Linked DNA regions of Homo sapiens. The protein of the gene in region 4 purifies or fractionates together with the protein of the main gene of each other region. This does not show direct contact. Each region holds a gene or a part of one and is shown on either strand. Other genes may lie near its edges. The genes, in order: WWC1, ZMYM2, HECW2 and ARRDC1.

Region 1 (7,023 bases), on a different chromosome or scaffold from region 4:
GATTCGGGGAGCCTGAACTCCCAATTTTGATACACTCTCTATGGAAGACAGACGGTTCCACCAAATTCCAACCACCTCTAAATGCTAAAGCAAAAAAAAAAAAAAAAAAAAAAAATTAAAAAAAAGTTTGCTTTAGGGTGATGGAAGGAGTCACATGTGATTTTGTGTTTTACCATCCCAGGCTCTTGAGTCGAACTGCCTGGATTCAAATCCGGCTCCACCACTCACTGCTTCATGACCTTGAGATACTGACTTAATCCTGTTAAGCCTCAGATGCCTCATTTGTAAAACTTGGATAATAATACCTACTTATAGGGCTGTTGACAGGACTCAGCGAGACATTATAAGGGAAGTCCTTAATATAGAGATTGGTGCAGGCAGGCAAAGTGCTCTGCAAAACTCATTACAACTATCCTTATTGCCACTACTGTTCCTATCACTGTAGATATCCATACTTTCAATGGCAAAAACTGCAATTACTTTTGCATCAACCTAACAGATCCATCCCTACCCACCTGGGGCAAAATAACAGCCCCTGGACCCTCAGGACAGAGAAGGGAGAGATTAAGCACCCGTTCTTCCACTGCCTATCCCTTTCCACTCCGAATTCAGCTCCTCCTCTTCCCTAACCTTAACAGGGGCCCTTGAAAGTCTCTGATCTGAGGCTCATAACTAAGCACTCAACACGTGCTGCACATTCCTTCCTTGCCCAAGTAATGATCACTCACGATGTGCCAGGCCCATTGCCATGTTCAGAACTACAAAGATGAATAAGACAATTCCTGCCCTCCTTGCAGCGGGGAAGGCCAGATCCAGATCTTACAACCTCACAGCTAACACCTCTGAGCACCTGCGGGCAGACCGGAGCAGGGCAAGGGCTCGCAGCATTGAGGGGCACAGAGTCCAGGGCATGGCAGGCCGGGGACGGCGATGGGTGACAAGGCGGGTCTGGGAGACTGCAAGTGCTGGTGATGGGGAAGCTGAGCCTGCGTCCCATGCCTGCTGAGCCCGCGGAGACCTCCTGCTTTCAGACCCACGCATCTCCACCCTCCACTAAACCACTTAAGGAGATTAATTTGTCTGCTGACTGAACAGCGGCACTAATCACATAACCTGCTTAGCGTCTAAGCTCTGCCTGGCATTGCTTGCTGCAGGGAAGGCTTCTGGAGATGGCATGAAGGAAATGCCATCCCGAGACCTGTGTGTGCCCAGCCTAATGTGCTGTCTGAGGCCCACAAGCCCCAAAGACACTGTTAGGGAGGGGAGAGGAGGGGGTCACTTCACAGGACATAGCTGGGGTCTGAGTGTCCTGACTTGGCTTAATATTGATATCAGAGGCATGCTCTTTGAGCCTTGTTAGAGGTTCCACCTGCACCCCCTCCTCTCCAGGGAACAATTTTCTGAGGCTTGCCACCTGCTATAGTAGGGCGCTTGCTTTTATTTTGAGAGCACTCAGCAAGACTCCCTTCCTGATGAGGGAAACCCAGGGATCTCTCGGCTCCTCTTCTAAGGAAACCACTGGCACTCAAAGCCTTTCGTTAACAAGGAAACCTCATTTCCCTACCATGCTCCCACTGGCCCTTGTACACACATGGATAATTCTGGGCACAGCAGCACCACTCCTGCCCATGCCTGGAGCCACAGAGCTGACATGGGTCTGGCTGCTTCTAGCTGGCCTCACCTGGAGCCAGGAGCACCAGCTTTTTGTAGACAGAACTCAGCACATGGATAACAGTGTGCGTTCTGAGCAGGTGGTCCTTGTGCCAGTCCTGGTCTTGCCATTTCACTCTGTGGGACTAACCTCAGACAAGTCTTTTAACCTCACTGTGCCTCACTTTTTTCATCTTTAAGATGGGGATAAAAGGGGCTGGACTTGGTGGTTCACGCCTGTAATCCCAGCACTTTGGGAGGCCAAGGTGGGTGGATCAACTGAGGTCAGGAGTTCGAGACCAGCCTGGCCAACATGGTGAAAGCCCGCCTCTACTAAAAATACAAAAAAAAAAAATTAGCCAGGCATGGTGATGTGCACCTGTAATTCCAGCTACTCGGGAGGCTGACGCAGGAGAATCGCTTGAACCCAGGAGGTGGAGGTTGCAGTGAGCCAGATGGTGCCACTGCACTCCAGCCTGGGTGACAGAGTGAGACTCCATCTCAAAAAAAAAAAAAAAAGGAGATTAAAAATAGCACCCACTTCCCAGAGGTGTTGTAAGGCTTAAATGAGTAAATATGCAGAGAAGTACCTAAATCCTAAACACCTGTACGCTATATATCATAGCTATGATTATTGTGAGCTATTTTTACTGTGGCCAGGAAAGCCAAGAAGGCCCAGGTGAGTTTACTGAGCATCCTACTCAGTCCTGACCTTCACACCCAGAGCCAGATGGGGTTGGTGGGGCCCCAAGCACCAGGAGTTGGCATGAATGTGCATGCTGAACTGCCTCCCAGCCTAAGGCATGACAATAAGGGGGTTGGGTTCCGGGGCCAGAAACACTCAGGTTCCTATCCCTGCTTCCTCACTTGTTGGCTGGGTGACCTAAGGCAAGTGACATCACCTCTCTGAATCTCCAATTCCTCACCAGTGAAATGGACAGAATAGAAATAACTGATTTCACCATGTATCAAGCACATTACCCAACTCATAATATATCCCCAATAAAAGTTAACTATTATGATTTATTATGTGGTTGCTGCTAAAGATAAAAAGGTTTTCTCCTAATAAATCTTAGCTGTCAATGTCAGCATCATCTTCTATTTTGAAGATTCCAACTTAAATTCCGGCCAACACCAAAATGTTCTTTCTGACCCCATGCAGAATGGGAGTCAGATCATATCATTCCTGGCTTCAAACGGTCACATGGGTCCCCAGTGCAATTAGGATAAAATCCAAACTCCTTAGCACAGCCCACCAGGCCTTTCAGGATCTGGACTCTTGCCTAGTTCTCCAGCCTCACTGGTAACCCCCTACCTCTGACTCATGGCTTCCTGGCTCCCCTTCTAGTCCCTTGCTCTGACCTCAGAGATTTTGCTCTTGCTTTTCCCAAGGCTGGCTCCATCTCACCATTCAAGACACCCTCAAATGTCATCTTCTTTCACAACCCAACCTGCCCTGGCAGTCCCACCTCTAACCAGAAAGGCTGGATCACATTCCCTGTTTTATTTTCTTTGTAGTGCTTGTTTGGTTGCAGGTTTATTCCCTGTGCCTCCATTTGAACATAAGCTTCATGAGAACAGGGACCCTGTCTGTCTTCAACACAGAATCCTTAGTGACCAACCCAGTGCCTGGCACCCAGCATATCTATAATCATGAATAGATGAATCCATGTATATCCATTAGCACAGGATGACCTGACATTTAGTTTTATGAGGTGCTAAATGTCTGTTGGAGGACAGAATCTACTACTGAAAACCCTTCACACAGGACCTCAAAAATACTGAGTTAATAAACATCCACTGAATAAATATACTTGCCATACAAAGACCCAGCACACAGAAGCAGTCAGTAAATATCGACTAGAATGATCACTGGGGGGTTCTGAGCACAGAGTATCTCTTTCCCTCCTCCTGGTTCCCACCCTCTGGGTATGGTGCTCTCTACCTTGGCCCAGCTGCTTGCCCTCCGTTCCTGGTTCCTCCAGCCGGTATCTTTCCTGGGCGCTGTTACCAAGGCTCAGTTCACAAAGAGTGGCACTCAGCTCCGGGTCTTCAAACTCCAAGGAGTTGAGGAAGGCATCACCAGCCAGGAGGGGGTCAGCCATGAGAGGGGAACAGGGTGGGGAGGGGGAGGAGAGAGAGGAACGTGGGGATAGGGAGGTCATGGACTTTGGGGTGCCAGACAGGGAACGCAGAGCCTGCAGGCGGCCACCTCCCTCTGCCTTCTGGGTCTTGGCCACCTCATCCTCGTGGATGGTGGTGATGCAGCCTGAGGGCCGGAAGCCGGTGGCCCCCTCCAGGAGCAGGAACTCCACCTTGCTCTGCAGCTCTGAGTCCAGCTGCTCAAAGGGGTCATAGTAGAGGTCAGTGAAGCTGGCTGAAGTGGAGGAGTCCAGGCTGGATGCAACCAGGGAGCCCCGGCTGGACGTGAGGGATCCGGGGCTGCTGCCTGAGGACAGGGACTGCATGCTGCTTGAGAGACTGGGACACAGGGAGGGGAAGGACAGTGAGATGCACACAGTGAAGTGGGCCCCCTGAGACCTTCTGCTGAGCTCTGGAAAGCACCATGATCTCACTAGACTTGCTTGGCAATCTCTAGGGTAGACCCTTCACCCCCACTTCATGGAAAACTGATACCCCAAGAAGGCCACATAATCAAGACATGGCAGAGCTGGGCTTTGGACTCAAGTTATAGCTGCCTTAAAAGTCCACTTTTTCCTCTAAATCTGTGTTTCCCAAAGCTCCAATTGGCTACGTTGCATTTGTATGATATGTTTTCATAGTTGAATCCATTATGTAATAAAGATTTCTTAATATCTTTCTTGAAATCAACTCACTGTGTTTTTTTTTTTTTTTTTTTTTTTGGGGGGGGATGGAGTCTTGCTCTGTCGCCAGGCTGGAGTGCAGTGGGGCGATCTCGGCTCACTGCAACCTCCGCCTCCTGGGTTTAAGCAATTCTCCTGCCTCAGCCTCCCAAGTGGCTGGGACTACAGGCACCTGCCACCACGCCCGGTTAATTTTTTGTATTTTAGTAGAGAGGGGGTTTCACCGTGTTGCCCAGGCTAGTCTCGAACTCCTGAGCTCAGGCAATCCGCCTGCGTCGGCCTCCCAAAGTGGTAGGATTACAGGCGTAAGCCACCACGCCTGCCCCAACTCACTGTTTTAATACTTTAAAACATCTATATTAAAAGGAAACTTTACATCCTAAGTGTAATTTGAAAAGCAGTATCACTTACTACAAAGAGAAGACCACCATTAGAAAAAAATCTAATGGAACAAAATGTTATTGAATTCCACTGATGCACTGTTGTTCATGGAGGCCCAGGTCTGAGGCTACATTCTCTGTGTTGTGCAGGTAGGTGGCAGTGTGAGTTTCCTAAGGCTTTTTTTTTCTTTTTGGAGACAAGGTCTGGCTCTATCACCCAGGCTGGAGTGCAGTAGCACAATCTCGGCTCACGGTAAGCCTCCTCCCGGGCTCAAGTCATCCTCCCACCTCAGCCTCCTGAGTAGCTGGGACCACAGGCATGCACCACCACACCCAGCTAATTTTGTATTTTTAGTTTCGCCATGTTGCTCAGGCTGGCTTCAAACTCCTGAGCTGAAGCGATCCACCCACCTTGGCCTCCCAAAGTGCTGGGATTACAGGTGTGAGCCATGACACCCAGCCGAGTCTCTTAAGACTACCTATTACCTGCCTGGGGCCTTCTTTGTGCTATCAGTCTGGAGAGGTCAAGACCCCTATTCCTAGCTACACCAGGCCACGCCCGAGTCTGCTGACAATCCATTTGCTATGCTTCTAAACATCCACTCTCAAGCCACGGAGGACAAGTGAAGGGTAGAGCCTGGGCTGGGACACTGGGGACACCCATGTCTGGCCATGCCCAGGGGAGCAGTGGCCTCACCGCCCACCACTCACCTTTTCAGCTGGGAGTGCAGAGTTGCCACCTGCCGGGTGGCTTCCTCCAGTTCTCTCACAAGCTGGTTCCTCTTACTGTTTAACTTTAACCTGGAAGGAGAGAAAGCATGCGAGGGATGCACCAAAAGGAAGCACAGGCATGCACTCTTACCCATGTACACCCAGACCCACAGGCACAAGAACTTTCCGTAAAGCATTTGACCACGGCATCTGGGGAGCTAGAGCTTCCACATATATTATAATCCTATGATAACTGCAATATCACTCACCCACTATATATATATATCAGGCACTCTGCTGGGAACCTTAGGACACTGCCTTAATTCAGTCACACAATAATGCTGCATAGTAAGAATGATTTTTACCACTTTACATAAGAGGAAATCGAGGCCCTTAGAGTTGTATAATTTACCTAAAGCTGTGGAATTAGTGGCAGAATTAGGATTTCACCCAACCATACCCTCCTTCTCTTCCTTCCTCCATCTTTCAGCTCATATTTACTGAATGCCCGTTTTGTACTGGACCCTGCCTGTGGCACTGGGGATAAAGTAGTGAGTGAGCACAGTAGGACTTGTTTCTGTTCTTATAGGGCTTACATTCTACTGGGGAGAACCGATATTAAAGAAATACTCAAATATCTAATTAACACAGTGTGTGACAAGGTCCATGAAGAAAAAGTACAAATGGTAGAAAAGAACACAAAAGGAGAGGCCCAATTTGAACTGGCAGGTGAGCCTCTTCCAGTCAAGTGACTCTGTGGCTGAGACTGGTGGTGTGTACCCTGCCTCCACCATTTTCCCAGCCTTCCCTGTGGCCGGGTGGGCAGGGCGTATGACCAAGTTCTGGCCAATGGGATGTGAGCACTAGTAGTTAAGAAAAGTGTGTGTGTCTTCTTTACTGTCTGTTGCATGGACTCTTGTGGACTCAAAGGGGAGGCGTCACAGATGGAAAGAGCCTGAGTTCCTGAATGACCACATGGAAGGCTGCCTGTTAACTGGACATACCCAATTAGACATTATATGAACAAAAAATAAACCCGTTGTATGAAGCCACGGAGACTTTGGGGGCTGTTTCTTGCAGCAGTTAGATTCCTGACTAGTAGAGAAATTTAAGGATGGATAATGGACAGCAGTTGGCTAGGAAAAGTGCAGGAGGGAAGAACATTCCAAGCAGGGGCTTTAGCAAAGACCTTATCATCTTGAGGTCACCATGACTGTGGGGAGGACAATGGGCAGGAGGCTGAAGACTGAAGGCGGGGAGGGTGGCTGTGAGGTGTAACCGAGATGGTGGAGGCTTGAGCAATGCAGAGACAGAGACAGTGCCTGGGCTGCAGGAGCAGCTGAGGCTGAGGGAGTAAATGTGGAAGACTGTGCGGTTACTGCTACGGGCAGCCAAGTGGCCCTGCAGATGGCATCTGCTAAGAGGAAAAGGCTGAGGCAGAGGATCCCGGGGGAAGA
Region 2 (7,023 bases), on a different chromosome or scaffold from region 4:
TGGCAGGTTCCACATCCGTGACCAAACACAGACTGAAAATACAGTATTCTGCCTGTAATCCCAGCACTTTGGGAGGCTAAGGTAGGCGTATCTTCAGCCCAGGAGTTCAAGACCAGCCTGGGCAACATGGTGACACCCTGTCTCTACTAAAAATGTAAAAATTAGCCAGGCACAGTGGCATATACCTGTAATCCCAGCTACTTGGGAGGCTGAGGTAGGAAGATTGCTTGAGCTTGGGAGATGGAGGCTGCAATGAGCCGTGATTGCACCACTGCACTGCAGCCTGGTCTACAAAGCAAGTCCTTATCTCAAAAAAAATGAAAATAAAAAATTATTTGAGGATGTGAAATCTGTGTAGAAGGCTGACTGTAGGGGTGTGGAACTTGAGTATGCATAGACTTTGGTATCCATCCACAGGTGGTCCTGGAACCAATCCCCTAGAATACTGAGGATAACTCTAGTTGCAGTTACTAGTTTAATGAAGCTAATAAAACCATCTTTACCTTTCTTCGACAGTTAACTTAGATTTGGTTGAATCTCTGTTGTCATGATTGATTGCTTTGTGTATAGTATGTATATGTTCATCCTCGAGAGTGACATTTCGCGGATGTCTGTGCCTGCTCTGTGCATATTAAGTTTATATTTGGGTTCATTTTCAAAAGGAATATTTGTGGGCCATGTGCAGTGGCTCACGCCTGTAATCCCAGCACTTTAGGAGGCTGACATGGGCAGATCACCTGAGGTCAGGAGTTCAAGACCAGACTGGCCAACATGGTGAAACCCCCTCTCTACTAAAAATACAAAATTAGTTGGGCATGGTGGCACATGCCTGTAATCCCAGCTGCTGGGGAGGCTGAGGCAGGAGAATCGCTTGAACCCGGGAGGCGGAGGTTGCAGTGAACTGAGATAGCGCCATTGCACTCCAGCCTGGGCAACAAGAGTGAAATTCCATCTCAAAAAAAAAAAAGAAAAATATTTGTGAAGCCATAAGGTTTAGAACTGAAACATAGAATTTCATATAAAATATTATTTTATCCCAAATCACTTGCAGTACTTAGAAGAACACTGTGTCAGGGCTTGGCTATTATAGTCCCCTGGGGGACAGAAATACTTCAAAAATTCTTTTTCTTTAATTTGAATTCCAAAAAGTAGATGCTTGTATTCTAGGCTTTCTTATCACAGTTAACATCTTAGTTTTGTATGTGTTCTTTTCAAAGCTTTTATCCAGTGTGATATTACAAAGTAGATCATGTGTCAGAGTAATTTTTAATTTGGAAAAATACCTTTTAATGTTTAGTAAACCTAACTCAAAATGATTTGGTTAATTAGGTGCCAGTTCCTGTTTTTCTGCCTGCTCCATTGGACAGCAGTGAGAAGATTCCTGCAGCAATTGAGGAGCTAAAAAGCAAGGTTTCTTCAGATGCTCTTGATACAGAGTTGCTTACAATGACGGATATGATGAGTGAAGACGAGGGGAAAACAGAGACAACCAACATCAACAGTGAGCTACACTAAATTATACCTTGCGAATAAGTGTTAACATTGGTTATTTATAAGTATTGTTACAGTACTTTCCAGGGCATATCATTTTGTTTCAACTTATGTGGGGGTGAGGAAAGCATTGTAACAAAAATGTTTTTTATATTAAGAGATCTACACTGTATTTAGCCAGGTGCCCTCAGACAGATATCCGAAGCAGGAATTTGGTCTTTGGTCTCTGTTTTAAGCAGGATTTGACTTGTAAAATCAACTCAAAATTATTCTTGTTAATGGAGTAGTGCTGATGCAAAACTATAATAACTTGTAGTAGACTCTAATGATGATCAAAACTCTTATTTTGTAATAGTTATCCCTAGTTTTTTGTTTTGTTTTGTTTTTTTTTTTAGATGAACTCTTGCTCTGTTGCCCAGGGTGGAGTGTAGTAGCATGATCCCGGTTCACTGAGATCTCTGCCTCCTGGGTTCAAGCTATGCTTCTGCCTCAGCCTCCTGAGTAGCTGGAATTACAGGCACGTGCCACCACGCCCAGCCAATTTTTGTCTTTTTAGTAGAGACAGGGCTTCCCTATGTTGGCCAGGCTGATCTCAAACTCCTGACCTCAGGTGATCCACCTGCTTCCCAAAGTGCTGGTATTACAGGTGTGAGCTACCACACCCAGCCCCTAGTTTTCTTTTATTGCTTATACTAATAAAATAATTTGCATTATCTAAACCAGAGTTTATCTTAACCTCTGTTAGGGCAGTGCTTGCGCTACATGGTATAACGTGATGAGTGTGTTGTGGATGGTTCTAAGTCACTTAGAATATTTATTTTCCACCCTTAACCCTCTCTTGATACCCAAAGTCCTATTTCAACCTTGAGCTAATTCTTACCCTTACCCTAGAGGACAATCAAAATACTATAATTTTCTCTGGATTTAATAATGAGACAGTGTTTTTGAAGCACTGTGGTAAGGAGTTGTGAAATTAGTGGGTTGCAACCAGTGTTTTTGTTTAAGAAAAGAAAAAGCTAAGTGGAATAGGGTAAGAGAAATGACAGTGTGAATCCCTCATAGAAAGGGTAAGTATTATTTTGTGAAACCAGTGTGTATACAGATGTCTTTCTGTTCCCCACCATCACCTTGCAGTATGTGCTGGATAAAATGCATTTCTTGCCATGATTACAACACAAAAACACTTGAAAGCAACTGATCGAACCATTAAAAGGCAGTTGTTAATATGCATATATTGAACAATCTGAGAAACCTGGGTCAAAATTCAAAGAGTATTGAAAACTACAGTTGTCTACCCTCATTAGTTTATTTTTGACAAAAAGTTGCTTTTAGAAATACTTTACTTGTTGAAGTTGTTTTACTATCAAAGCATACCTATTAGCTTTTGAAGGGAGTCCTCCTGTAAAATTTATAGGATTAAAAGTTTTCATGTGCTTGTGACTAATTATGAGGTTTATAGTGGTTTACATTTTGAGATAGTTATATATATAATATGCCCTTTTCTTTTGTGACATTATACGTATTTTTTTATATTGCATTTAAAATTAAATGACTTGCTTTTGCCAGATTAAATACAGATACCATTGGGGTTTTCTGTTTTGATTCCTAATGATAATATGGATTGATTTCAGGTGTAATTATTGAAACAGATATAATTGGTTCAGACCTTTTGAAGAACTCTGACCCAGAGACACAGTCCAGCATGCCTGATGTACCATATGAACCAGATTTGGATATCGAAATAGATTTTCCCAGAGGTACTCAAAACCTTTATGACTATGGAATTTAGTTATGGAGTCAACTGTGGTTATGATCATTTACCATTTGATGTTTGTGTCATTGCCTTTTAGCAGTGTTCATATTTTTTATTCTTGTTATTTTTTAAACTCACCTTAAGAGTTAACTTCATATTTTGTTGTTGTTTTTTTTTAAAAACCCACCTTAACAGTTAACTTCTGGAATGAGATCACTTGAGTCCAGGAGTTCAAGACCAGCCTGGGCAATGTGGTGAAACACTGTCTCTACTAAAAATATAAAAATTAGCCAGGCGTGGTGGTGCATGCCTGTAATCCCAGCTACTCGGGAGGCTGAGGCAGGAGGATTGCTTGAGCCCAGGAGGTAGAGGTTGCAGTGAGCCGAGATTGTGCTACTGCACTCCAGCTTGGGCAGCAGAGTGAGACCCTGTCTTTAAAAAAAAAAAAAAAAAAAAAAATTCTAGAAGTAATTCATTATAGAAAGTTTAAAGAAGTGTTTGTGTCCTTTTTAATTTAAAAATGTTGTTAGCATCTGGGTGCGGTGGCTTATGCCTGTAATCCCAGCACTTTGGGAGGCCGAGGTGGGTGGATCACCTGAGGTCAGGAGTTTGAGACCAGCCTGGCCAACGTCGTGAAACCCCGTCTCTACTGAAAATACAAAAATTAGCTGGGCGTGGTGGTGAGTGCCTGTAATCCCAGCTACTGGGGAGGCTGAGGCAGAATTGCTTGAACTCAGGAGGCGGAGGTTGCAGTGAGCCAAGACTGCACCATTGCACTCCAACCTAGGCAACAAGAGCAAAACTCTGTCTCAAAAAATATATATATATAAAAAATATATAATATATATAATACATAAATATAATTTTATATATTATATACATCATGATGTATATAATATATAAATATATACAATATATAATATAAATATAATTTTATATATAATATATATTTTATATATATTATATAGTTTTTATATATATAATATATATAGTTAGCTTTTTTTTAAGATCCTTTGAAAATTAAGTTCACCTTCAAAGGAAAAATTATTTTCAGGTCTTTTGTAAAATAAGTGTGCCCCATTTTTCATTATTTTCTTAATCCATGGATGGCTAATGAGCACACTGAGTAGAATGTAAAACATTAGTTTTTGGAAAAAACATTTAATAGATTGAATCAGATTTGTACCAAGACCATTTAGATCTTGTAATTGGATTTCAGACTATAATAATTTTTCTGGTATCATACATTTTCATGAAAATTTTATGTTGATATTCATTTTATATATGTTTTTAGGAGTTTGAACAGTGTTTGTCAGAATTCACAAACCATGTTAGGTACAATGAGTCATTTACTCCCCAGCCCAGCCTAGATTGTCCCCATGTATGAATGCTGGTTTACATCCTGTGGTTAGTTCTTTGTTGGCTGTGTTTATGTAACCCTGTGCTATTTCATTTAAAATAAAAGTTCTGATTTGGTTGTCAGCTGCTGAGGAGCTTGATATGGAAAATGAATTTTTATTACCACCTGTTTTTGGCGAAGAATATGAGGAACAGCCCAGACCTCGATCTAAAAAAAAGGTACATTCACTTAATAGCCTATATAACAATATTTCTCTATAGGCAAACAAGGATACAGTGTTCTTTTAGTGTGCCTGAGAATATGGGAACATATTTTGTTTTCTAGGTTGGAAAATAATTTATTTTCTATTTATATAGAATATAGTAATAATATATTACTGCTATTTATTACTATTATTTATTACTATTTCTATTTGTATAGAAATAGTAATTATTACTATTTCTAGTAATAATAGTAGTAATAATTTATTTCTAGTAATAATTTATTACTGTTTCTAAGTAATAAAAATATCTCAGATTTAGTTGATACCTCAACTAAACTTGTATTGATACAAGGTCAAAATAGAAAACAGTTGCTAAAGTAGTAAGTTCAATTATTTGACAAAAATTTAGACTGTTTTCTAGGGAGCTGTTTTTTCCACGATTATTTCTGATGAGATGATCAGTGGGGTTGAAGTACACAGTTTATTATTTCTGGTCTCTTTTAGGCATACCAACACACATAGAAAGACATGCTGGACAGTTTGATCATTCAGGTAGACCAAATCTACATGCATTAACAAGTGTAATTGTTATAATATTCTGTCAACTTTCTGTGTTTCTGACTTCCAACATAAAGCAGGTTTTAAAAATACCTTAAGAAAGATAGCTTTCACAAATTGTCCCCAAAAGAAAGAAAAAAAACCGGAAAAGGGAGAGAATACTTGGAGTGGAATGAAGGTGGACTTCTGCTTGACACCAAACACAACAATTAACTCAAAATGAGCCATAGACCTAAATGTAAGAGCTAACAATATAAAACTCTTAGAAGAAAACATAGGCCTAAATCTTAATGGCCTTATGTTAGGCAGTTTCTTAGGTAAGATACCAAACGCACAGGGAAGAAAAGGAAAAATAAATAAATAAACTGGACTACATCAAAATTAAAAACTTTTGCATTGCAAACAGTGCCATCAGGAAAGTGAAAAGGGGGCCAGGCACAGTGGCACCTGTAATCCCAGCACTTACAGCACTCAGGAAGGCTGAGGCGGGAAGATTGGTGGAGCCCAAGAGTTTGAGACCAGCCTGGGCAACATAGTGAGACCTCTACAAAAACTAAAAAATAAAAACCAGCCAGGCATGGTGGCACGTGCCTGCAGTCCCAGCTACCCAGGAGGAGGATCGAGGCTGCAGTGAGCTATGATCGTGCCACTGCACTCCAGCTTGGGCAACAGAGCAAGACCTCTCCTCAAAACAGAACTCCAGCATGGATACTTACCTGGCAGGGGAGATACCGTGATTACAAAACTCTAGCATGGGTGACAGAGCAAGGCCCTGTCTTAAAAAAACAAAAATAAAACAATAAAATAAAAAAGTGAAAAGTACTTAAGTGTCACTCTCTATAAGGTGGAGTTGTTGAAAAGTTCTTCAGTTTCTGTTACAGTAATATTTAGATTATTAGTTTATTGTCTTATATTTATTTTCTCATCATTGGTGACTCTCACCACAGAATTTAATATGATTTTGTTGCACAAAGTGATTTATGTAGAAACATCACATTTCCTGGAATATTAATTGACTGTTGTCAGATTCAGGAATACCAGTCAGTTCAAAGCAAATACCTATATTTCATTTTTTCTTTTCTAATTTCATGACACATTAAACAAATAACTATATTTTTATGACAGATTAAACAGATAACTATATTTGTAATTACAGATGACCGTTGTACAATGCAGTGGTTGGGCTCTGATCCCCCCTGCACAGTCACAAATTTGTGTATAACTTTTGACTCCCTAAAAAGTTAAGTACTAGTAGCCTACTCTTCACTGAGCCCCCCTGCACAGTCAAAAATTCATGTATTACTTTTGACTCCCTAAAAAGCTAACTACTAGTAGCCTACTGTTGACTGGAAGCCTTGCTGATAACAGTTGATTAACACATATTTTATATGCTACATACTGTATTTTTATAATAAAGTTAGCTAGAGAAAATGTTATCAAGAGAATCATATGGGAGAGAAAATATATTTACGATTCATTAGGTGGAAATAGATCATCCTCATTGTCTTCAAGTTGAGTAGGCTGAGGAGGAAGAGGAGAGAGGTTGATCTTGCTGTCTCAGGTGGCACGATTGGAAGAGGTAGAAGGAGGTTGGAGAGGCAGGCACACAGAAAAACATACGTGTCCAAGTGGACCCCTGCAGTTCAAACCCATGTTGCT
Region 3 (7,023 bases), on a different chromosome or scaffold from region 4:
CTTAGAAGAGGGCTTCCTGAAGAAATGTCCTCTGCATGTATCCCCCGCTCCTGCAGCTTCCCCTGCCTCATCCCTCACCCATAACGGCCTCTGTCCTGGTCATGCGCTAATGCTTTAGGGTCACATGGTGGCTACAATATAATGAAGGAAACAAAATTTAAAAAAAAAAAGGAGGAGGAAGAAAAGAAGGGGATCATGTAGGTAGAAAAATACATTACAGAAAAAGAAAATCATTCCTATTTCTGAGTTATGCCAGCCAGACATATGAAATTGCTCTTTGATTTTTAATGCATCCTTACAGGGCATATTAAAGGAATCATTCTAGAGAGCTGCATTCACTGAGCGTAATACAAATTTCAGGTGTAAATTTGTGTCCTTGGATACAAAAACAGCTTATTCTCCAAGTCAGAAGACATCACCTAACTTAGTTGACATTCCTAAATTGTAGAAGACAAAAACACTACCTTTGATGCATAGCATACATTAATCTTCCACTGTGAAATTTTAGAAAGGAAGAGTGGCTAGGTGTTTCTCATAACCTTTGCAGATTACACTAAGGTTGAAGCTGCCAGCCTGTTTGGTTGTGTATCTACAAACCCCGGTTCCAATAGAGACCCATTATTTAAGTTTGAAGATTGCTGTTTAACAGGCCTGTTACTTCAGCAGCAGAAGAGCCATTTTTTAAAAGAGCACTGAATTTGAACTCAAGCCCATCTGGATGCAAACCATGCTGCCTTCTTCCTAGCTATGTGATTAAGTCCCAAGGTCTCCCCGCTCAGAAACAGGAGGCCTAATCTAGAGGAAGGGTTTCAGCTGCCCACTCATTTGTTACCTGTTTCCTTCTCTTCCTGGCCCTGTTTTCAATCTTGCCTCTCTTCTTGCCTGCTGAACCTCAAGGTGAGGAATTCAGGTCATATGTAACCTGCAGCCTTATTTACATTGAGGGGAAAACTACAGAACTTCTCTCTGCACAGCTACGCTCGAGCCAAGAGCCACAGTGGTGTCCATATCCTACCTCCAGTAGCGCCCTCCTCCTGGGCAGTTGCCCCTTCACAGGTGCCTTGGGCCTCCCCAGCACTGCCTTCTTCTTGCGGTGGGCTCTCGGCAGCAGCTGCAGCTCCCTCCAGGCTCCCCCTCCGCTGCCAGACCTCCCCCAGCTCCTCCTGGTCAGGTACAGTGGCCGATTCTGCCCCTGGCCCTTCATCCTCCCCACTGGGCACCTGTACCACAGGTAAAGAACCAGCAGTGCACACGGATTCCTGCGACCCTTCGGCAGGGCCACTGCTGGTGGGCTCTGCTGCACAGGCTCCGTCTTCCTCCTCCTGAGAAGAAAAGGCTGGGGTTTCAGGAAACCGTGCGCTCTCAAGAGAGGAGCACCGTGTGTCCACAGAGGACAGCTGCGTGGTCACACTCTCATTGCAGGAGCTGTCAGCGCATTCCAGGTCACTCTCTCCCTCAGGCCTGGTGCTGGCTTCGCTCACACTCTCTGTCCTGGCAGGATCACTGGGTTCTGTTTCAGAGGACACCTGGGAAGGCTCAGAGCCCTGATCGAGAGACTCGGTCTCACTGACGGCTCTTCGGCTTCCTCCTGATGCATCGGAAGTCCCTGTGTCTGCGCCACTTGTGGGCTGATCTACCTCTTGAGAGCCACACAGTTCAGCACTGCCCTGGTCAGCACTGGGTTGAGGCTCTGGGCCGCCTTCACCTTCCTCTGGGGCTGGGCCTGCAGGTAAGGAGCTCTCTGCAAGCTCTGGAAGATTTTCTGGCTTATCCTCAAAGGAAGCAGCTTCGTGTGTGGAGGCTTCCTCATTCTCAACAGGGTTGTCCTCCAGCTTTGTCTGAGATGTCAGGCTTCCATCATCAGCTCTGGATGCCCTGCTAAACATGATCAGGCCTCCCTCCTCCTCCAAGGAAGATGGGTAACCCAGGTCTTGCTGGAACTCGTGATCTTCTTCATCTGAATCAATATGAAGCATGGCATTGAGTCTTGTGTCAGTGGGAAAACTACTCCTCAGTTTCGGAGAGGCACCCATGGACCTCTCAGAGCAGGTCGCTGTCCCCGGCCTGGAGTGGCCATTGTGTTCGATAGCATCTAAGTAATCATTGAGTGAATCCTGACGTCCTCTGGGAGGTGAGGTCCTTGAAGACGTAGAGGTTAATTCCTCTGTGTCTATTTCCAGAGTGGAGCTAGTCCTGAATGAATGCTTGGGGGTTCCATCGGCAGCACTGTCCTCAGAAACTGGCCCATTAGAGCACACCTGGCTGTCGTGATGGCTCCCTGGCATGTCCTCGTCATCGGAAGGGCTACCTAAGTCTCCATTCACAGAATTGACTCCAAGTATTGTGCCAACAGCTTCTGGAGAGGCATCTGAATGAGAAAACAGCATTTCTAAAAAATTAACCAGAAATAATAAGTGAACGTTTTATGACTTATTTGCTTTGCCACCAATAAGTTCAAAGAAATCAGTCATTCTGAGGGCTTTCTACTGACTTGCTAAGATTCACCACTCACTACTAAATGAGGAGACTGCTAGTCAGCTTGGCACAGGAGCTATGTATGTTAGCATGGCTGAAAACTCTACAGCCCAGTTTCAAAATGCAGGCATCAATCTAAGAGACATTTTTGGGCAAACAGCCTTTCCTACTTGCTTAGAAAATTTCAGCAGGTAATTATTTGACAGCTATTTTACTTTCAAAACAGAACATGAATTCAATTCTGTTCAGAAGCAAACTGACAATCGAGTTAGGTTTAACAAGTTTTTCCTATAGCAATGTATTCATACAGATATATTTATATCTCACCTTCATGAACAGAAGACGTAACCTCCACTTTAAACTGGAGGTACCCACTCACGTGGTCAGCTGGGAGCCTTCTGCCAAGGTTGTAGCTGAGCATTTGATCACTGCAAGAAGAGAAATGCTTCTTTCATCCTGACTACGCTGGAGTCAGCCTTCGCCGTCTTTCCACAGGCCACCCACCAAATCCCTCCTATCTCTCTTAAAACTTTCAGACTCACAAGAACATTAAAGGCTCAAAGCCCATTATAGTCCAATGTAATATTATTCATTCATACAAATGGAACACTTATAAACCCGGAGATAAAAGGAAATGTTGCCATAAGAAAAATTATTATTACGAGCACAAGACATCATATGCTATGTGATATTTTTAAGGACACTGATTCACTCTCTCACTTTTAAGGGTGACCAGGAAAAGGACATTTTGAAGGTCATAAAGGAGTTGTGAAAGGCCTCAAGTTTTAGGGGTTTTTTGACTCGGGTGTAAAAGGGGAGAGAGCCTGGTTCCTCGGCATTTAGCACAACAGAAAGCTGGTTCTAAAAGGACACTCACAGCTAAGGATTATCACCCAACATGGCACGTAGGGCACTGTGCTATGCCCTGAAGAACAGGAGCTGGGACTTAGGGGAGAGAAGCACAAGAACACAAGAATGAAAGCGCCCTTCATAGCCAAGACAGCAGCCCTGGCTGTGTGATGGGGAGAGGACCGCTAAGCTCTCCTTCCTCACCTGTAGAGTAAGGAGGCTGGAGCTGCTGGCCTTCCCTGCTGGGAAGCCTGGCCTATCACTGATTCTCAGGGTGCCTTGTAAGCAGTGCTGATGGGATGGTTGGCAAAGCCAGATGTGCCCCTGTGGTGGGGTCATATCCCAGATCTGGAAGCAGGTTTAGTTTTTGCCTTGCCTGGGCCCCGGGCTTGGACTGTCTGCCTCCTGAAGGATGGAGTTTTCCATCTGTTTCAAGTCTGTTTCTTTATCAAAGTCAAATGCAGTCATTTCATTTTCCTGCACACAAGTAACAATCTTATTCTGAATTAAATGACTTATTCTTTTTCTCTCTTTTTTTTTTTTTTGAGACAGAGTCTCGCTCTGTTGCCCGGGTTGCCTAGGTTGGAGTGTAGTGGTGCAATGTTGGCTCACTGCAACCTCCACCTCCCGGGTTCAAGCAATTCTCCCAGCTTCAGCCTCCCAAGTAGCTGGGATTATAGGTGCCCGCCACCACACTCAGCTAATTTTTTTGTATTTTTAGTAGAGACAGGGTTTCACTATGTTGGCCAGGCTGGTCTCGAACTCCTGACCTCGGGTGATCTGCCCACCTCGTCCGCTCAAAGTGCTGGGATTACAGGAATGAGCTGCCGTGCCCGGCCAACTTATTCTTAATTAAGGAAAATCATCAAAAGGATAGTGCCAAATCACTCCACCTCTGCCCTCTAATGGCTATTTCAGAAGGAAGATACAATGTTTCTTCTATCTACTCTTTGCTCCACTGTACAGTTTAGAGCCTCTAGTCAGCTATGCATTATTAATTTGCATAACTTGTTTTTGGTCTTCTCTATCTCCTCAGTATGACTTACTACTTTACTCACAACTTACAAAAAGCTCACAAAAAGAAAATAGACATTAATTACACATTAAATTTTAAGAGAATGTCAATGAATAAATTTTAGTTGCTTGAATGAATGTATATGTCTAGGAGCTTTATTATAACACTTCTTCAAGTCTAGGTCTCGTTTTAAATGGCTCCAAGACAAGATTGTTTCCGTTTTTCAAGAGTAACAAGTTCTCTGGATGGAATTATTTAGGATAAGGTAGGCATCAACCTGATCCAAGAATTCTGCCCCAGGGAGAAGTTTTTATAAAAAGCTCCAATATACTGAGAGACAATCAAACACTATGAGATTTGACACTGAAATATTAACAGTGGGTACATCTTGGAAAAGATAAAGACGCAAAAAACATATATAATTAAAATAAACTACTTTTTTGTCAAGTACATTTTAATAAGTGTAAGGACACTTTTATTTTTAAAAGAATTGTGTTACTACTTCTTATCAGTATGAAAAGTCCTAGGACTACCAAGTTTCATGTCATTTTTTCCTATATGAACTAATCTCAACAAGATCCCCAAAGGTAAGGGCTGATTACCCGATGGCTTGTCGCTCCAGCAGCCTCTGGACTGGAATGGTTAGTTTCCCCAGAAAACGCTTGATGATGGGACGGCTCTTGGCAAATTTGTCTTTAATTTCAATTTCTAAGACATCAGTAAGAAGTGCAAAAAAGGAATATTTCTGAAAACACAAACAGATAACATGCTGGTTTAAAAGAAAGACAAATATGATACTATATCATTTTATTTGTATAGGAAATGGTATCTCTTAAATTCTAACAACATACAGAGTTCCACATAGCTAGAAATAGCTGCAGCTATTGTCAATCCTTTATTCACTCAGAATGATTAGCATTCACCATGATTAAAAAGCAGCAGTCAAGGATCTGTATGACAAAAGAAGCCCTCTCAGTCAATCATGCAGCCCTTCCTAGTTTCACAGTTTTAGGAGATGTTATCAAATATTAAGTTATGCACAATGCAATTTTAGTACTCCCTACATTTATTGTATCTCAATTCTTTGATATTTAATATCTTGTTATAGAATGGATTAGAATTAACTAGTATATTTGATTGACAATTTGAATTCCTAATCTCATGAAATTCTGAAGTTGCAAAACATAGTTGAAAATACTCCTCCACTTAGTGGTTAAAATAGGAACATCTGCAGAATACTGTGGTTTCCCTGATAAATGTTAAAAGAATGTTTAAATGGAATTTTTCCTTAAGTTTAAAAGGCATACAGGGTCATTTCTTCTGGGACAGAAAAATAAAAGTATGAGGTTAAGATAGCTTTTGTTGTTTTCATTTTAAGAATGCCACTGGGGAAATTTGGATCGGACATTAATAAGGATATAAAATAAATATGAAGAGCTTTACTCACAGAGACTTTTACATATATTATCTTCACTTTATCTTTACAACGATGTAACTTTCTTTTTGAAGATGAGAATCTCAGGATAAGTAAATGATGGTGCCAGGAATCTAACCTAAATTATTTCACTGCTTCCCTGACAGTATCCATGCAACTATAGTGATGTGAATAGTGTTAGCCAACTTTTCACTTAGGTGCCTCTAGGTTTATCTAGTCATAACAATTAAGGTTTTCCAAAGGGCCAAGCAATTTGGCAGTCTGCTTAATGGAAAAAAGTACTTGCTTAGAATAAAAAAGCCGAGTTTAATCCCCACTTCTGTCTCTGAATAGCTAGTCCCATAAACACTTTAAGCTTCAATTTCTTAATCACCAAAATGAAGACATAATAATCTCATCCTTCGTGCCTCCCTTTCAGGCTTGCACTGGTGACATGGTCAAAAACTTTGCAAATTTAAAATGTTAGGAAAATAGTTACTGCTTGTTTCATTATCATATCTATTATGTGCTTTCTAGAATCATATTGAGATATATTTTTATTTCTTCTAGGCTTTGAAATGCATTAGACTAAGTGGCATGCCCTTAAGAGTTTTTTTTGTTTTTTGTTTGTTTTTTTTTTTTTTTTTTACCATGATGAGATCATTAGTAGTTTCTTAAACCAAGTGTAAGAATACAAGCAATATTCAATATCTAAAACCATAGGAACTGCCCAGGAGAAATGCCTTGCTGTGTTGGCAAGTCTCAGATAACTATATCTTTTCTGCAATCGGTTTTAGATCCCCTGATATACCTCTCTCCAATTAAATATTTCTACAATATTGTTAGAACATATTGTTGTCATTAAATATTTAGGGTATGATCTAATTAACTGTGTAACTCCTATGCCAGCCCAGAAAGATTTTCACACTAGTTATGTAAAACATGCCTCAGATCTCCAAGAAATGGAGGGAGAGCTCAAGCTTTGCTCACTAGATAAGAAGTGTCTATTTGTTCATTCTTTGACTTTCCGTAGTTCAAATGAGAAAACCCTTTGCTTGATTTCACTGATATGGTGCACTAAGATGACTGGTAGCATACTGTAGCTGTGAGGAAGTCTAAAATACCATCAACACAATCTGGCTTCACTCAGGATGATGACTCCTTGAATGGCTCATCTAATTAACAAAACTCTAGAAATTCATAAAACATTTGCCAAAGCCCGCAGAGAGAGAAATTCCTTTAATTTGTACTAAATGTATGCTACAACAAA
Region 4 (7,879 bases):
GCTGGGTGAATTTCCCAGGGAGCCCGTTTTCACTGGCCAGGCCAATGGCAGCGGCCATGTTTCTGCCTTTTCAAATCATCGAATCAGGCAGGACCACAGGATGCAGTTCTGCCCACGGAGAAGCCAGAGCAATACATGGGGTCCATTGTGAGGGGTCTCCCTGCTGCTGGCGGCATACGACCCCGCTCCCTCTTCTTTCCAGCTTGCAGACTGCTTGTGATGGCAGAACACGCTGAAGGGAACCGAGCCTTTCGCAACAGGAAAGCCACCAGGCAGGGCTTGGCTGCAGGACTGAGTGGCTCAGTGGCAGTCCCCTAGTCAGAGTGTGACTTCTTCCGCCTTCTGGACTTGAACGTTGCACCTCTTTGCAGGGGCCCTGCAAGCCCTGTCCCTCCTCCCCCATGCAGGTTTAAAAAATGTTTCCTGGCCAGGCACGGTGGCTCACGCCTGTAATCCCAGCACTTTGGGAGGCCGAGGCGGGCGGATCACGAGGTCAGGAGATCCAGACCCTCCTGGCTAACACGGTGAAACCCCGTCTCTACTAAAAATACACAAATTAGCCGGGTGTGGTGGCGGGCGCCTGTAGTCCCAGCTCTTAAGGAGGCTGAGGCAGGAGAATGGCGTGAACCGGGGAGGCGGAGCTTGCAGTGAGCCGAGATCGCGCCGGCACACTCCAGCCTGGGCGACAGAGGGAGACTCCGTCTCGAAAAAATAAATTAAAAAAATAAAAATAAAAAATGTTTCCTGTGTTCAGATGCACAAGCAAGGACAAGCTGCTGGAGGCTGCAGGCCTCTCTGACTCTAAGGAAGATCATGACTGGGCTGCGTTCTCAAGTGACCACTGGAACTTTCTTCTCCAGCTGGGGCTCCCACCTGTTCAGCAGCCCCTCCCTTGCACCACCTGCACTTGGACCATGAAGACCCACCCACTCCTCATCCTCATCCCAAAGGACTCACGCCTGCCACAGAAGCTGTGACCTGTAAGCCACTCCCCCAGTCCTGTTTCCAAATCTGTATCATGAGAGTAACAACCGTGCCACTTGCCAGGGCGCTGAGGGTTAACTGAGGCTGGCCCGTGGCACGTGGAGAGAATTGCATCGGGCCCACCATGAGTGCTCCGAGAACCACTGTCGGCCCTGGTCGCCCATCCCAGTAACAGCAGAACAAGAAGTGGTCCTGCCTGAACCCCAGCCCTGGACTGGGCCAGCCTGAGCTCCAGAAAACTGCTCCCTCCCAGGCCTCCCTCCGCGTCAGCCCTTTAGACAGCCGGTGTCCTCACGGCTGGGTGCTGACTGTCACCGACACTCATCGGCAGAGTAAGTGAGCAAGCTCTGGGGCCCAGGCAGGGCTGCTGTCCTCCTGGGGGCTGAGGGCCTCCCTACTGGCTCCTAGCAGGATTGACAAGCATCCTCTGAATGAGGAAAAGAAACCATGGTCCTTCTGTTCCCATCCCAGGCAGGGCTGGGGGAAACCCCCGGGGGCCCCGGTACACCCTCCCACCTCACTTGCAGCAGCCTGAATCATGTGCTCTCTGGCCCATCAGGGCCCATCTCCTACTCCTTAGCTCACGACCCTCCTTTTTCTCCCTCATTCAGACCAGCCTCTGTGAGGTAGGACCATCAGCCAGTGCTCCCTCGGCTCTTGGGCCAGCTGCCCAAAGTGCTGGGATTACAGGCGTGAGCATTCAACCCACCCACCACGTCCACCCGGAGGCCAGGGGAGCCTGCACACCCAGGCCAGTCACGCACCGCGGGGCCGTCCCTTCCCTGTGGTAAGCAATGGCCTGCTCACCCCAGGCCACGCCAGGGGAAGGACGACAGGGTCCTGCACAGCCCTCAACCAGGATCCAGCCGGCCTCACCACACACCACACCTGTACCCAAGAGATGTGTGTGCTATCTCTGCCCTGCCACGGCCACACCTGCCCCCACCCAGACCCCAAACTCAAGGTTGGGACAGAGGAAGGGAGGCTGTGGGGTCATCCCAGGAGGCCCAGTGGGGCCAGGAGCCTGACAGAAGCACCTACCACCCGGCTTCTTCCGAGGCCCCACAGCCTCAGGCGGTGCAGGGTCAGGGCCACAGCACCATCACCTGTCCCAGGAGGCTGAGAGGACAGAACAGAGACTGTGGGTTCTCAGCAGGCACAAAATCGGTGCTGTTACCCACGCGCGGGCCCAGCGGTCAAGGTCCAGCGGCAAGTCCAGGGGCTGTGGCACAGGCCAAGCAGCCCAGGTGGTTCCCACAGGAGGCCAAGGTAGAGAAGTCCCCGGCAGGGACGCGGCACTCACAGCCAAGGGCCGGGCAGAGGCAGCCTCACCTCGCGGGCCGGCCCTCACCTCCAGGGCGCCCTGCCAGCGGCCACTGCAGCAACCCGATACCCAGTCCCCGAGGCCCAGGCGTCCACCTCGGCGGGGGGCCGGCGAGGCCTGCTGGCGGGTGGCAGGGGGCGCAGGGAGCCGCAGCAGGTGTCTGCACCCCGCCGGGACCGCACGCCCGCGCCAGGAGCGGCTCTGCAGCGGGAGCGCCTGCGCCGGGAGCCAGGGTGCGGGAAGGAGCCCAGCAGGTGCGAGCGCGGACGGGGAGGGTCGCAGGCCTGCGTGCGCCCGCGCTCAGGGCGTCCTCCACAGTGGACCCGCTTCAGGCCCCGCCGGGACCCCGCCGCCCCTCGGCGAGAGGGCAGGAAGGGCAGACGCGGAAGGGCGGCGCCGCCCGGACCTCCCCGGCGCCGCCGAGCCCGCTTCCCAGCAGTCCCGGGCGGCGAAGACAGCGACTCCGCGGGCCCAACCCGGGGCCAGGCGACGGCAGCCGCTTCCGGGAGCCCTGGCCCCGCGCAGGTGCGGCCAAAGGCCCTCCCCGAGGACCCGCGCCCACCTCGGAACGGCAGCGGTGCCCCCAGGCGCACGCGCACGGTCCCAGCCAACGGCTCCCCGGGGCTGTAGACGACGCGGCCGTGGCTCAGGCTGATCTCGAAGAGCTGCACTCGCCCCATGCCGCGGCCTCACCGGCCAGCCGCGCAGCGACGCCCCCGCCCGCCGCCCGCGAGTCCCGGCTCCGAGGCCCGGCCCCGCCCCCTCCTATGCCCCGCCCCCATCCGTCCCAATCCCGGCCTCCACCCCCATCCGGCCCCTCCCAGGCCCTGCCCCGCCCCACGGCCCCGCCCAGCCCCCCGGCCGCCCCGTAGCCCGCGGACTGCCGCTCGGAGGCCCGGCCCAGCCCCTATTCCCCGCCCCATCCGTCCGTGTGGCCCCGCCCCCTCGTTATTCCCCGCCCCTCTGACAGCCTCCTCGCCCCGCCCCCGCCCTTCGCCCCTGCCTCGCCTTCCCAGCTCCGCCCCTGCCTCGGCCGCCCCACCCCTGCCCCGCCCCCCGGCCGCGCTCATCCATCCCCGGCCCTGGCCCTGTCCCGGCTGGGTAGGTGCTGCGCTGCGTCGGGCGCCGCTTAAGGGACTTGAGGCGCAAGCGTCCCGTGCGTCCCCCACGGAGGGAGTCACCGCCGCGTCTCCGTCGGGGGGCAGGGCTGGGGGCGGGGCCGAGGCGAGCTCTGAGACTGGGAAGGTCTCCCCGCTGCACTCTGCTGCGGGCAGAACCCACTCCTCCGCCCCCACCCTCCGCCCGTCCCGCCCAGGGGTCTCCCTCACCCCGAGTCGCGGAAAAACGTCACGGGGCCGCGCGGGCGTCCTGGGCGGGGATGCTCCGCCGCGTAGGACCTGCCCCGCCTCAACCCCCACCCCCGGCTCCTGCCCCGCACCCCCAACCTTCTCCGCACCTACCTCGCGTCCCAGCACCTGTCGCGCCCCTCCGGAACCTGCCCGCCCTCCCGCCTTCCCGGTACCTGCCTACCCCCGCAACTGTCCCGGCCCCCAACACCTGCATCGCCCAACCCCTTCCCCCCCCGCCCCCTGCCTTCCCCGCACCTGCCCGGAGTCCCAGCACCTGCCCCGCCCCCCGCTATCCCCCTCCTTGCTGGCCTGATGGGGTGTGGGCCCAAGGGAGCCACACTTGGGCGGAGGCCCTTGGGCAGGGGTCCGCAGCAGAAGGGTCGGGGGCCAGGTGGGGCGAGGACTTGGATCACTTGAAACCAGGAGGAACACACTCCCATTTATCTTTTTTAAAGGGTCCCTTTGTAGAGAGTGAGCCGCGGGGGGTGGGACTCAAATACCCAGGGGACCTAAGGCGGGAGAGACCGGTTGGGTAGTCCTGGAGAGGGAAGGCGTCGCTCGACAAGGACCAGCTCACCACGGAGTGGGTGTGCGGGCCCCAGTGCTGCGAGTTTTTCTAGGACAGCCGGTGAAGAGGGTGGCCTTCTCTGATGGGGAGGACGGACCTAGATACACATGGTTTGGGGGTGGGAGGGTCATCACATGCAGAGTCTGAGGTGCCACTGATCCCCAATGGACCAAGTACTTCCGTGCATGAGCCTGGGAGTCAAGCACTAAAATGTTGCCATCCCTAGTTGGTAGAAGGTAACAGGTCAGGGAGGAGGAGTCTGGCACCCCAGCAAAGAGAAAGGGGCTCACAGGCTGGAGGGGCCCCCGGGCCAGGCTGGGAGAGGCCCTGAAGCCCCAGGCCCAGCTCACTCCCTTAGGATTCCGATGTTTCCGGAGGTGGGTCTAACTGGCCATGCTCCAGACACTTTCCTGCCAAGGCTATGCACAGGCAGAATTCCCGAACAAGAGAGAAGGGTGCCATGGGATGGCAAGGATTGTGGACAGCCCTCCCGAATGGCAGTCGGCCATGCCAGAAGTCAGAAAGAAGGTGTTTCACCGGGCGCGGTGGCTCGCACCTCTAATCCCAGCACTTTGGGAGGCCGAGGTGGACGGATCACGAGGTCAGGAGATCGAGTCCATCCTGGCTAACATGGTGAAACCCCGTCTCTACTAAAAATACAAAAAGAAAAAAAAAAATTAGCCGGGCGTGGTGACAGGCGCCGTGGTCCCAGCTACTTGGGAGGCTGAGGCAGGAGAATGGCGTGAATCCAGGAGGCGGAGCTTGCAGTGAGCCAAGATCACGCCACTGCACTCCAGCCTGGGCAACAGAGTGAGACTCCATTTCAAAAAAAAAAAACAGAAAAAGAAAAAAAAGAAAGTGTTTCAAGCAAGGGACAGACAGACTGTATTGCAAGCTACTGAGATGGAAGACAATGGACACAGAACACAGGTGGCCTTTATCCCAGGTCAGCCACAATCTAAGCCCCACAGGACTCTGCACATCCTTGATTCTGACCCTATCTCCCACCCATCCTGTGTTCCAGAAACCACCACCAGCACCAACCGCCCTGTCATTAGACTCTTCTTCTCCAAGCATACTTCTAGCTGCACTCTCATGAAAACCTGGCTTCCCCTGGAGCTTTCGGGTGTAGAGATATCTTTTCGCAGGATCCCTCTACCTCTGGGTCTGTAGGTGGGGTTGGGGCCCTCCTGGCTCCTTCCTAACACTACCAGGCCATTCTCCACCCTGGGAGCTACCATGTGTAAGCTTCCTGGTCTCAGAATCACCAGCACCACCTTCGCTCTGGTCGGCATCTTCATTTCTTGGTGATTTTAGCTCCTAACTCACTGTCATTCCCTCCATCTCCAAGTGTGGAAACTCAGTGCTTCTGAATCCACACAGGCAATCCTTCCAGCCTCCTGCCCTATATCCTAAAAGTACCTGGGTTTTGTTTGAATCAGGTATAGTAAAGTGACAGACTAGAAGACAAGTGCCACAAAGGAAGGATTTAGTACTCGTGGTTCTCAGGAGGAGGGGCCCTGCCATGCCACGCAGGGCCAGAAGGGGAAGTACCAGGGTCAGGAGGAGCCAGGAGAGAGCATGACCCAGAGCCTTTTTTGTGTTTTCCTCAGGGTGAAAATGGACAAGGCAGGGTAGGTAAGTGTGAGCAAGTTTAGGATTAGATAGCTTGAATCATGTCAGCAGACTCTAGGTCACAGCAGGGGGCTCTAGCCGTCTGGTATCTGTCCCTGGGGGATGCAGGGCAGGAGAAATGCTGGCTTGGGGTGTGAGAGTCAGATCAGGAAGAGACTGGGGATATGGGCTCTGGATTGGTGTTTATAAAGTTGTTTGCTAGCTCTGGGGATTAGCCAGCCCTGGAAGGGGCAGCATCTCCCTGACTAGTAAAGCCCCCAAGATGTCAAAGCATAATAACATACAGAAAAGGAAAAGTGTGGGCCGGGCGCAATGGCTCTGCCTGTAATCCCAGTACATTGGGAGGCCGAGGTGGGCAGATCACCTGAGGTCAGGAGTTCAAGACCAGCCTGGTCAACATGGTGAAATCCCATCTCTACTAATAATACAAAAAAAATCAGCCGGGCATGGTGGTGGCACACGCCCGTAATCCCAGCTACTCGGGAGGCTGAGATAGGAGAATCGCTTGAACCCAGGAGGTGGAGGTTGCAGTGAGCCAAGATTGGGCCATTGCACTCCAGCCTGGGCGACAAGAGTGAAACTACATTTCAAAAAAAAAAAAAAAAAGGAAGGGAGGGAGGGAAAAGAAAAGTGTGGTAAACACGTGTCAGTCTCATGGTTCCTCCTCCAAAACCCTCCTCTACCTCAGCAGTCTCCTTCCTAGGGCGTGGTGGTCCCTCCTCAAAGATCCCGCCCACCTTTGCATCCCTGCTGCTCTTCCCACCGGGGGGCTTCCCCTGGAACCTAGGCTGGCCCACAGCTTGCGTTAACTGGAAGAATTGCAATGAAACAGGCTGGGCGCAGTGGTCCATGCCTGTAATCCCAGCACTTTGGGAGGCCGAGGCGGGCAGATCGCTTGAGATCAGGAGATCAAGACCAGCCTGGCCAACATGGTGAAACCTCATCTCTACTAAAAATACAAAAATTAGCCAGGCGTGGTGGCACGTGCCTGTAATCCCAGCTACTCAGGAGGCTGTGGCAGGAGAATCACTTGAGCTCGGCGGGGGAGGTTGCAGTGAGCTGAGATCACGCCACTGCACTCCAGCCTGGGTGACAGAGTGAGACTTCATCTCAAAATCAAACAAAACAAAAACAGTCAAGGCTGGGTGTAGTGGCTCACATCTGTAATCCCAGCACTTTGGGAGGCTGAGGCGGGTGGATCACAAGGTCAAGAGATCGAGACCATCCTAGCCAACATGGAGAAACTTCACCTCTATTAAAAATACAAAAATTAGGCCGGGTGTGGTGGCTCACGCCTGTAATCCCAGCACTTTGGGAGGCCGAGGCGGGTGGATCACAAGGTCAGGAGATCGAGACCATCCTGGCTGACATGGTAAAACCCCATCTCGACTGAAAATACAAAAAATTAGCCGGGCGTGGTGGCGGGTGCCTGTAGTCCCAGCTACTCGGGAGGCTGAGGCAGCAGAATGGTGTGAACCCGGGAGGCGGAGCTGGCAGTGAGCCGAGATCGCGCCACTGCACTCCAGCCTGGGTGACAGAGCAAGACTCCATCTCAAAAAAAAAAAAAAAAAAAAAAAAAAAAAAAATATATATATATATATATATATATATATATATATATATATATATATATATAAATTAGCTGGGCGTGGTGGCACGTGCCTGTAGTCCCAGCTACTCGGGAGGCTGAGGCAGGAGAATTGCTTGAACCCGGGAGGTGGAGGTCGCAGTGAACCAAGATTGCGCCACTGCACTCCAGCCTAGTGACAGAGCGAGACTCCATCTCAAAACAAACAACACAAACAAAAAAAGAAAGTCATAGGAGCAACACACATTCACGTGGAGGGGAGAATTTGATGGTGACAATTGACACAACCTACCACCCTAGCCAACAACAGCAGAACCAACCAGCTAAGCCCATCCTAAACTACAGAATCATGAGAAAATACATAGTTGTTTAAAGCCACTAAGTTTTGGGGTGGTTTATTATTATTATTATTATTATTATTATTATTATTA

What was found.
Region 1: the proteins of ARRDC1 (region 4) and WWC1 purify together in Homo sapiens (affinity purification with mass spectrometry; 4 studies listed by BioGRID and IntAct, with this or other methods). This does not show direct contact.
Region 2: the proteins of ARRDC1 (region 4) and ZMYM2 purify together in Homo sapiens (affinity purification with mass spectrometry; 5 studies listed by BioGRID and IntAct, with this or other methods). This does not show direct contact.
Region 3: the proteins of ARRDC1 (region 4) and HECW2 purify together in Homo sapiens (affinity purification with mass spectrometry; 5 studies listed by BioGRID and IntAct, with this or other methods). This does not show direct contact.

What each region holds. Positions count from the first base shown.
Region 1 is NC_000005.10:168,420,641-168,427,663, reverse strand, and holds part of WWC1 (protein KIBRA), read right to left. Parts: intron 5,657-7,023; coding exon 5,567-5,656; intron 4,132-5,566; coding exon 3,596-4,131; intron 1-3,595. UniProt on the Homo sapiens protein: Regulator of the Hippo signaling pathway, also known as the Salvador-Warts-Hippo (SWH) pathway.
Region 2 is NC_000013.11:20,059,724-20,066,746, forward strand, and holds part of ZMYM2 (zinc finger MYM-type protein 2), read left to right. Parts: intron 1-1,329; coding exon 1,330-1,501; intron 1,502-3,122; coding exon 3,123-3,248; intron 3,249-4,727; coding exon 4,728-4,822; intron 4,823-7,023. UniProt on the Homo sapiens protein: Involved in the negative regulation of transcription.
Region 3 is NC_000002.12:196,317,537-196,324,559, forward strand, and holds part of HECW2 (E3 ubiquitin-protein ligase HECW2), read right to left. Parts: intron 5,085-7,023; coding exon 4,942-5,084; intron 2,904-4,941; coding exon 2,803-2,903; intron 2,390-2,802; coding exon of another isoform or gene 2,369-2,389; coding exon 1,016-2,368; intron 1-1,015. UniProt on the Homo sapiens protein: E3 ubiquitin-protein ligase that mediates ubiquitination of TP73. Acts to stabilize TP73 and enhance activation of transcription by TP73. Involved in the regulation of mitotic metaphase/anaphase transition.
Region 4 is NC_000009.12:137,600,827-137,608,705, reverse strand, and holds the start of ARRDC1 (arrestin domain-containing protein 1), read right to left. Parts: upstream 3,021-7,879; 5' UTR 2,989-3,020; coding exon 2,871-2,988; intron 1-2,870. UniProt on the Homo sapiens protein: Functions as an adapter recruiting ubiquitin-protein ligases to their specific substrates. Through an ubiquitination-dependent mechanism plays for instance a role in the incorporation of SLC11A2 into extracellular vesicles.